2 linked regions of the Homo sapiens genome follow. The protein of the gene in region 1 purifies or fractionates together with the protein of each later gene. This does not show direct contact. Each region holds a gene or a part of one and is shown in the gene's direction. Other genes may lie near its edges.

Region 1 (4,916 bases):
ATTGGGGAGTGGCTGCACTCATCAAGGAGCTGTGCCTCTGCCTCAGAGCGAGGCTGTATTCAAGATTTTGGTGGTGGTTGTTGGAATGACAGCGCCTGCCACGTGCTGTAGCCCTGTGCCGCAGGGAGCCCTTGGGGTGTCTGCTGATCTCTCTCCATCTCTCGTTCTAGCTGTCCCTACCTGGCTCGCAAGCTGACCCTTGCCATCCCCATCATCGCTGCCATCCTCTTCTTCTTCGTCATGAGCTGCCTGCTGCAGACAAGCTTCACCGACCCTGGGATCCTGCCCCGGGCCACTGTCTGTGAAGCAGCCGCCCTGGAGAAACAGATCGGTGAGGTTTCTACTCCCAGCTGAAGCTGGGTCTCCATAGCTCCACATTCCCTGACTTGGGAGGAGGCCTGGTTTTCTCTTCCAAAACTATACTAGGAACTGGGGATGCAGTCGTGAGCAAGGCAGGCTGGAGCTGACACTGGCACAGAGGGAGACAGATGATCAACAAGTGAGCAAATAAGTAAGCAAGAAATGCTGGCCAGCCAGCAAAGGCCCCGATGGCAGCCAGCGTGGAGCTGAGTAGTTCCTGGGGGCTAGGCACTGTTTTAAGCTCTTTATATGCATGATCTTATTTAATCCCCCAGTAATCCTATGAGGTAGGTACTGTTGTCATTCTCCTTTTACTGATTAATTAAATCAAGGCAAAAGAGGGTCCAAGATCACAAAGTAAGTAGAAGAGCTGAGATGAGACCTCAGTCTAGAGCACCTGCTCTTAAACATTCATATACACTTATTCATTCACTCATCAAACATTTATTGACCCCCTACTATGTGCCAGGCACTTTTCTAGATGTGATACAGCAGTGAACAAAACTGACAATAGTCCCTGTCCTCATGGAGCTTGACAGTTGAGGAGGAGGAAAGAGACAATAAATAACAAATAATTAAATATCTAGGATATCAGACAGAGAAGAAAGGAGGGAAGGAGGATGAAGGCTACAGGGAGGGTGTGTGATTTTACATAGGGTGGCCAGGGAACATCTTGTGAAGGAGGTGACATCTGAGCAAAGAAGCACCGGCCTGAACAGATGAGGGCTTGACGGTGGGGTTATCTAGGGAAGAGCCCAGTAGGTGTTGGGGAGTGGGCTAGTTTAGGTCAGGTGGTCAGGGGAGACCTCTAGGAGGAGGCGGCACTGGAGATGAGTGTGGTAGAAATACGGGGATCTGGGAAAAGTAAGGCCAAAGCCCAGAGTGGCAAACAGCCTGGGCGTGTGTGAGGAACGGCAGTGGCTGGAAAGACCCTGTGCTCCCAGGCAGCCCAGGTGGCCCTTGATTCCTTTCAGACTGCTGTGTGGGTTCCGGGGTGGCGGGGTACTGGGCCAGGTCCCTAATCTCAGCTTGCTGCACCCCAGCTCTTCCTGCTGAGAAGTGACGTGGCTACTTGCACACCTCGGGGGTTTCCGGTCCGTGGTTAGCTCCTTCCCCTAACAGCATGGTGTTCACACAGGCTTTTAAACACCCAGCTGGCCCTGAAGACATCTAGTGGCCTGTAAATGTCAGAGCCCTGCTGCATCCATCGCTAGAAATCATTTCACTAATACTCTGTGCAGCAGGGAGGGAGGGAGGGCGAGCAGCTGGAGAGGATGTTCTCTGGGCTCTGTCTGCTCTTTGTCTCATTCCTCTGCCCAGCCCCATCCTCAGCCACGCCTGCGAGGGCCACCTCCTCTCACCTACATCCAGCGTCCTACCCCTTCAAACTCTGGGTCCCTGGCCACTCCTTCAGGATCCCACGGTCTGACCTGGGCTGGCCCACCTGGCAGCTGGGGAGGCCCAGCTGTGCCCCGTTCTTCCTCCCCTTCTGGTCAGGGCTAATCATGAGGCAGGATTATTGTCCAGCTCAGCCGGACCCAGAGGTCTGGCTGCCTGGAATCCTCGGCCTCCTGTGAGCTGCGTGGATCACAGTGACAGCAGTAATCCCCTTCTTGGAAAGAGCTTGGCCGTGTGCTGAGTGCTTTCCATCTATTATCCCCACAAATCTTCACAACAGCCCAGTGAGGGCGACCCTGTTAACCAATTGTACTGATGGAGAAACGGAGGCAGGTGATCACAGGGCCAGGATAAAGAAGCAGAGACAGAGTGTGTGCCTTTCACTCCCAAACCCCTTGCTTTCTCTTCTGAGATGGCAGCAGGGACACATCTCCTTCATCCTCTTCTCCACTTGTTTCCTGTGCTCTGGGAAGCCTTCTTGACCCCAGTTGGGCCAGGCCTTCCATTGCACATTCCCAGAGCACCTTCTCCTTCCTTCTCTGAACCTGTGCTGCAACGGTGGTCATTACAAAATCATCCTTTCTGCTGGCCTGTGAGGGCATGGAATTCCAGCATCTTGTTCACCTTGTCGCCATGTAGAAGGCTCAGTGACGTTGGCTAAATGAGTAAATGAATGACTGAAGAATAGGTGAGCTTCTGTGAAGGCCCTCCTTGCTCTGTCAGGGTGACAGGTGAGGAAACAGTCAGGACATCTCCCAGTTGGGCATCATGGGTTTGTTCATTTGTGTGTTAATTCTATATGCTGACCCCTGACAGCAGAGTGAAGGCAGGTGGGGGCCAACAATGAATCTGATAGGAGCTTACTCTCATGGGTTCCAGACAAGTTGGCCCCAGGTGGGAGCCCTGACCAGCCACTGCCAGTGAGATCAGGCTTTAGAAGAGGGTCAGAGGAGTCAGGAGCATCTTCTGCCTGGGGGACTGGAGAAGCTTCCTGGAGAAGTGATGCTTGAGCTAAGTCTTTAAGTTTGGGTGGAATTCAAGCACAGGAGCTGTGCGGAGGCAGCCCTTCAGGCAGACAAAGCTGAGGGAAGAGAGAGTGGCAGAGGGAAGGAGGAGGGATGGGAACGGGCCACTGAGCAGGCCACGTTGGCTAGAATATGAGGAGCACTTCAGATAGTTAGGGATATTAGAGATATTCCAGTTGGAAGGATGGGGTGGAATCAATCTTGTAGGGCGCTGAATGTCCCTAAGACTTTTCTTGGCGAACAGGTGCAAAGTGCAAAAGTGGCATTTTGGAGGCCTTTGAATTCTCAAACTTGAATAGAAGCCAAATTTTTGGGTGTGACCAGGAGACTTCTAACTAATTAAAGTAAAACATATTTCCCAGGGCTGGCACAGTGGCTCACGCCTGTAATCCCAGCACTTTGGGAGGCCGAGGCGGGCGGATCACAAGGTCAGGAGATTGAGACCATCCTGGCCAACATGGTGAAACCCTGTCTCTAGTAAAAATACAAAAATTAGCTGGGCATGGTGGCGTGTGCCTGTAATCCCAGCTACTCAGGAGGCTGAGGCAGAATAATCGCTTGAACCAGGGAGTCGGAGGTTGCAGTGAGCCAAGGTTGCGCCATTGCACTCCAGCCTGGTGACAGAGCAAGACTCCGTCTCAAAAAACAAAAAAAACCAAAAACATATTTCCCCGAAAATGATCAGGACTAAGATCACTGAACCTTTTCCAGAAGGTTGGGAGCTGTCTCTGAGGCAGGTGGTGCTGTTCATGTGAGCATGAACTGATTACCTGGTCCTAGGCTCATGTAGACAGTGTGGGCTTTTCCCTTTGGCACCCCAGCCCAGCAACTCCAGCCCAACAGGTCTGGCCCAGGGCTCCTGCCCTGTGGGGACAGTCTGAGGTAGAGTGACCAGCTCCTCCCAGTTTACCCAGGACCACCTGGAAAGTCTCCTGTCTTAGGAAACCACTCAATCCCAGGAAAATCAGGGCACTCGGTCACCCTCATCTGAGATCCTGTCTTGCCGGCTGGTGGGCTGTGCAGCTGGCTCACCCTGCAGGCTCTAGGCAGTTGGGAAGAGCAATATTGCTCCCAGAAGCTCCTGGTCTGATGGGAGGTGATAGAGACATCCAAATCCAAGTGACAGATGCTCACTTAGACCCTGTTACAGTTCACATGACGGACACAGAGGCTGCGTCTCTCTCCACTGCCATACACCAGCTCCCAGACCCCATCTCCTTTGTCTCCAGGACGTCTCTGCCCACTTCCCCTGGACAGACCTGCCTCGTGTTCCACCTGAACTGGCTCAGGGCTCTGCAGAACAGGCCCTGACTGGGCCTTTCCCTTCAATTGTAGTTATCTCTCCAAGATCCCAAATTTGTTCTCCCCACCCCTGCCCTGTCCCCCCACAAACCCCACAGAATTTGGGTGACTCTCTGGTGCCCTCAGCATATCAGTGATATGAGTCCAGCCTTTGTGATTTTTCCTTCTGCATCCCGCCTTGTACCTTCATTTCTTTTTTTTTCTTTTTTTCTTTTTTTTTTTTTTGAGACGGAGTCTTGCTCCGTTGCCCAGGCTGGAGTGCAGTGGCACAATCTCAGCTCACTGCAACCTCTGCCTCCCAGGTTCATGCCATTCTCCTGCCTCAGCCTCCCGAGTAGCTGGGACTACAGGCACCTGCTACCACGCCCAGCTAATTTTTCGTATTTTTAGTAGAGACGGGGTTTCACTGTGTTAGCCAGGATGGTCTCGATCTCCTGACCTTGTGATCCGCCCGTCTCAGCCTCCCAAAGTGCTGGGATTACAGGCATGAGCCACCGCATCTGGCTGTACCTTCATTTCTTTAGTATTTTCCTCCTAAATGGCTCATCTTTAAATATATATGTATAATATATATATTTCATATACATTAAATATATATTAAATGCAGCTGGGCGCAGTGGCTCATGCCTGTAATCCCAGCACATTGGGAGGCCGAAGCAGGTGGATCACAAGGTCAGGAGATCGAGACCATCCTGGCTAACAAGGTGAAGCCCCATCTCTACTAAAAAAAATACAAAAAAAATTAGCTGGGTGTGGTGGCGGCCACCTGTAGTCCCAGCTACTCGGGAGGCTGAGGCAGGAGAATGGTGTGAACCTGGGAGGCGGAGCTTG
Region 2 (4,916 bases), on another chromosome or scaffold:
CTCCCTCAGTTTACCCAGGGCAGGTGCTAGGCCCAAGGGACTGCACATGGAGGGCCGGGAGGCAGCAGGTGGATCCCTACCCACCCGAGGTGGTTTGGGACAGCCTAGAAAGAGGAAGTGCGTGAGTTCCTTTCCTTTGTGCTTCCGAGCAACCTGGACCTGCAGAGTCATGGCCTGTGCTCCTCCAGCCTCTGGCCCAAGGGGCTCCTGCTCACACGCCTCGGTGCCTCCCCAGTGCTAGGGCACAAAGCGAGGGTGCCCGACACTTCCTGCTTGTGGATGCCTTTGCTGCCCCTGCTCTGACCTGATCCCCGCCCTGGCTGTACCTACTTCTTTCCTTTTTTCAAACAAGCCCTTTGCTTCCCCACCTCTGAACACTGGCTTGGGGGCCCCTGTGCCTGGGACACCCCTTTCTTCCTCCCAGGCCCTGGCCCATCTCCTCCAGGAAGCTTGAGTGCTCACTGCAGCCACCGGCCTCCCTGTAAGACAGTGAGTTGTCTGCGAGCTCTGCTCTGAGCCCTGGCACATGGAGCGACTCAGTTACACTTAATCAGCTCTTAGAGGCACTGGCTGGGCATGGTGGCTCAACGCCTGTAATCCCAGCACTTTGGGAGGCCGAGGCGGGAGGATTGCTTGAGCCTAGGAGTTGGAGACAAGCCTGGGCAACATAGTTGAGACCCCACCACTAGAAAAAAAAAAAATAGCTGAGTGCAGTGGCATGGACTTGTAATCCCAGCTACTCAGGAGGCTGAAGCAGGAGGATCAATTGGGCCTGGAAGTTTGAGGCTGCAGTGACTGTGATTGTGCCACTGTCCTCCAGCCTGGGCAACAGAGTGAGACCCTGTTTCGGAAAAAAAAAAAAAAAAAAAAGAGAAAAGAAGTAGGCACTAACATGGTTCCAGTTTTGCCGACGAGGAAACTCAGGCTCACAGTGATTAAATCATTTTCCGAATGTCACACGAGAACGTAGGAGGCAGGCAGAATCCGGAGCCAGGGATCCGCCTCTGGGGCCTCCAGTGCCTCCAAGCGAGACAGCCACTAGACCAGCGAGCCCTGGAGGGCTGGGCAGGGCCTTGTCCCCTGGTGCCTCCCGGAGCCCAGCACGGGGCAGGGCCAGCTGGGCACTTAGTTTGGACGAGCTCTGTCCCTCCAGGGGCTTCACTTTCGCCTTCTGCAGCGTGGGGGATCATGTGTGACCTTGGCCAGCCCCTGACCTCCCTGAGCCGCAGCCTCTGCATCTGGGACACCCAGGGTTTCCCATGCAGGGAGTGTCAAGTGTGGGTGCAAAGCCCAGGCACCGCACCCCTCTGCAGACGTCTGGGGCTTTCTCTTGCCCCTTCAGTTCCCTCCCTTCTCTGAGAAGCGCACCTGCTGCCTGTGGACATGAACACTGGGCATTTGGTGAGTCACACAGTGGCCACCCGCTTCTCCAGTGGGAGCTTCATGGCACCCCCACTGTGCTGAGTTGTCACGGGGGACCTCCTGGCCTCTCGCAGCCCACCTGAGTCCTGCAGGGACCAAGCATCCTTGTAAAGCCTCACAGCCCACCTGGGCAGATCGAGGAAGAACCTAGAAGCCAGAACAAGCTGGGGCTGGAAGACTCATTCCAGGCACCGAGGTCCATGTGAAAGGAGGCTTTGCGGTGGTTTCTGCTTTGCTTGCATTGAGCCTCAAACTCTTCCTGTCCCGTGAGAAGGGGGGATGGGATTTGGAGGCCTGAGGAAGGAAGGAGGGGAGCTTCCTGCGCACAAGCGGCGGCAGGGGTTTGCAGAAGTGGAGGCTGGGGGCTGCCTGGCCAAGCGCTTACCGCCCTGCGCAGCCAGGCTGGCTGGCAGGCTGCAGCGGGAAGCGCCTGTGGGTCCTCGGCGCTGACTGCAGAGCTGGGTGGAGGCAGCGGAACCAAAACTGCTGTGTCACTGCACGCTGCAGCTGTTGCCAGGGTGACCGGGTGAGTTTCCCACGCTTGCCCGGGCGGCAGCGTGCGGGCCGGCGGGTGGGGCGGAGGGGTGTGCAGAGAGGCCAGTGGTGTCGTGCCACCCGATGCCCGGGGGTGTCCACTCCCCTCTCCTGGGTCACGTGACCAGGGCCCCTGCCCTGCGGTGTTGTGGGGTGTATGTGTGGTTCTTGGGGGGGTCCCCAGCCCTCCTCCGTCCTGGGAACTGGGCTTCGGCGTCCTCATGTGTGGGTTGGGACCCCCCAGAGTGCCTGCCTCATGGAGTGTCCGGGGGCACCCAGCGGGGCTGGGCACTGCCAGGGGCTCAGTAATGAGAGGCAGCTCTCATTTAGGTGGGCAGCGGGCAGGGGGTTGCAAGCAGGGACCGCCCATGTGTTGGGGGGGGTGTTGAAGGTCCTTTTCCACAGAGGCCTGGGGTCTGCTGCGGGCGAGTCCTGAGGTTGCCACAGCCTCTGCTGGCCTTGCTGAGCAAGCACAGTGGCCCCGCTGCTCCGGAGCAGCGTGGCGGGTGGGGGGCACGGCCCTCTCTAGCCTCGGTGTCTGTGTGTGAAGTTGGGGGTACAGCTGCGCCATCCTTGCTGCAGGGCCGTGGGGGACATAGGGACAAACCTGGTGTACACCCCGCTGACTGCTGTGGTTGCCCCCCCCAGCTCAGCTCACCTATGAACCCCGTCAGCAGCAGCGAGGACATCAAGCCCCCCCTGGGCCTCAATGGCGTCCTCAAGGTCCCCGCCCACCCCTCAGGAAACATGGCTTCCTTCACCAAGCACATCTGCGCCATCTGCGGGGACCGCTCCTCAGGTACCGCTGCTGTGGGGGCCAGGGGCTGGTGGGACAGGGTTGTCAGGCCATTGCAGGGTCTGGAGGCCTCCCCAAATCACCCTCCTGTGGGCCAAGCAGGACCCAAGGCCAGGGTGCAGGGAGGCAGGTGCCTGGGCCATGCCCCACTCCCAGGGCTCCGCGAGGCCATTCCAGGGTTCTCACGTCTGTGGGACAGTGAGTGTTGGGTGGGGTGGGGCACAGGGCAGCCTGAGGCTTCCGGAGAGGAGGTGGCTGCTGATGGCAAGGTCAGCATGGGGGCAGCCAGTGCTGCGCCTCCTCCCTTGGCTGGGTCTGGGCAAGGGGCCCGTGTTGTGCCACTGACCCCCAACGGCCTGAGAGGGAAGAACGGGCTGCACAGTGCAGACACAGAGCAGGTGACTTGCCTGGGGCCCTGGTCCCTGGTGGGCTGGGATTTGTCCCTGCCCCACTCCTAAGCTGTCCTCGGAGGAGCAGAGAGAGTGAGGCTGGGGCCCAGTCTGAGCCCAGGCAGGGGTCTGGAGACCAGCAGGTCCCTTTCTGAGGCCTGGCCCGCCAGCTGGTAGTGGCGGCGTTGGATGGGGGGTGGGCTCCCTGCCGGGGCGGTGGGTGCTCCCCAGCCCTGCTCTGCCCTGTCCCGCAGGCAAGCACTATGGAGTGTACAGCTGCGAGGGGTGCAAGGGCTTCTTCAAGCGGACGGTGCGCAAGGACCTGACCTACACCTGCCGCGACAACAAGGACTGCCTGATTGACAAGCGGCAGCGGAACCGGTGCCAGTACTGCCGCTACCAGAAGTGCCTGGCCATGGGCATGAAGCGGGAAGGTAGGCCACGGCGTCGGGTGGGGGCGCGGGCAGGTGTTGGACAAACAGTGGGGCCCGGGCTTGTGCGTGGACACCCGAGATGGACAACAGGGAGTGAGTGGCCTGGACAGAAGCATGGCAAGGCCAAGGCAGGAGTGGGGGCGGGGCCCAGCGCGTGGGCACACGTGCGGCCCAGAGCGTGGGCACACATGGGTCCTGGGCGGCATGTTCTGGCTGGCGTTGGCTGTCCGGTGAGGGGATGGTCAAGGAGACCCTCAGGTGGCACTGCTTAGGTTGGAGAGGTGGAGCGGGGGCATCTTCTGAGCTGTTGGATGCCAGGGGTGGTCCCGGGCCAGCTTCCTCCCGAGGCCAACTCTGTGGCACCCCGCAGGGCCGCCGGATGGCCCCCAGGCTCTTGGAGCAGTTCCTCCTTTCCTTTTGTTTTTGTGCTCGTCTTATTAACAAATCTGTGTCGGGGCGGTTTGCAGGGAAGTCCCTCCCCCGATGTCACCAAAATTGTCAAGTCATCCAGCCAGACCTGGGTCGGAGTCCCGGGCCCCACAGGCACTGTGACTTCCCAGTCCTGGCTGGCTGTAGTCCTCAGTTTCCCCATCTGTCACATCCCCTTTCCCTCTCAGGTTTGGCGATTCCTGGCCTCTTAGTGGGTCCCTGGGTCATGGTTTGCACACACGTTTGGGGGTGTGCCTCAGTTCCTCCCATCGGGTCCCGTGCCCTGGGCCTTGTGGAGGTGGGAGGTGCTGTCTGGGGTGAAGATCTGTTGGTCTGTCCCTGTCCCCCCGCTCTGCAGGACACCCTTCCTCTGTCCTCTGCTGTGCTGCTCCTGAGGCCCAACACCTGTGTGGCTGGTGTGTCTTACTTCCTCCCCGCCAGCCCCTGGTGGGGTCCCCAAACAGGACCCACACCACTGTCTCACCGTCAGGGATGTCCTGAGTGGCCACCTTGGTGCTGCAGTTTCATTTCATCATCTCTCTTGTGTATGTCTTCTCAGCCTTAACGGTCCTGTTGAGAAATCAGAGCCTCTGCCAGGCGCCGTGCTCCTGGAGGGTGTCCTCCTTGGGCTGCGAGGCTGAGTGTGGTGTATGGGCTGGTGTGAGGTCCTTGTGCCTGCATAGCAGAGCTGCCTTCCAGAGCTGGTGTGGCCATGCCCAGTGCTGCCAGTCAGGCCTTTCTGATGGGGATTCGTGTTTCATGGAGTGCTGACGTTTGCTCAGGCCCACCCTGTGCTGTGCAGGTTGGGAAACCGAGGGCAGACGGTTCAAGCCTTGCGCAGGGTCACATGCTGGGCCCTGGCCCCCATCCAGACCTTGTTGCTTTCACCAGAGGGCAGAGGAGCATGTGCCC

What was found. Proteins that work in one complex are often made in the same cells at the same time.
Region 2: the proteins of ZDHHC18 (region 1) and RXRA purify together in Homo sapiens (affinity purification with mass spectrometry, with the first as the bait; one large-scale study listed by BioGRID). This does not show direct contact.

Annotation. Positions count from the first base shown.
Region 1 is NC_000001.11:26,832,277-26,837,192, forward strand, and holds part of ZDHHC18 (palmitoyltransferase ZDHHC18), read left to right. Parts: intron 1-170; coding exon 171-331; intron 332-4,916. UniProt on the Homo sapiens protein: Palmitoyltransferase that catalyzes the addition of palmitate onto various protein substrates, such as CGAS, HRAS and LCK. Acts as a negative regulator of the cGAS-STING pathway be mediating palmitoylation and inactivation of CGAS.
Region 2 is NC_000009.12:134,405,545-134,410,460, forward strand, and holds part of RXRA (retinoic acid receptor RXR-alpha), read left to right. Parts: intron 1-1,015; exon of another isoform or gene 1,016-1,948; intron 1,949-2,604; coding exon 2,605-2,755; intron 2,756-3,395; coding exon 3,396-3,575; intron 3,576-4,916. UniProt on the Homo sapiens protein: Receptor for retinoic acid that acts as a transcription factor.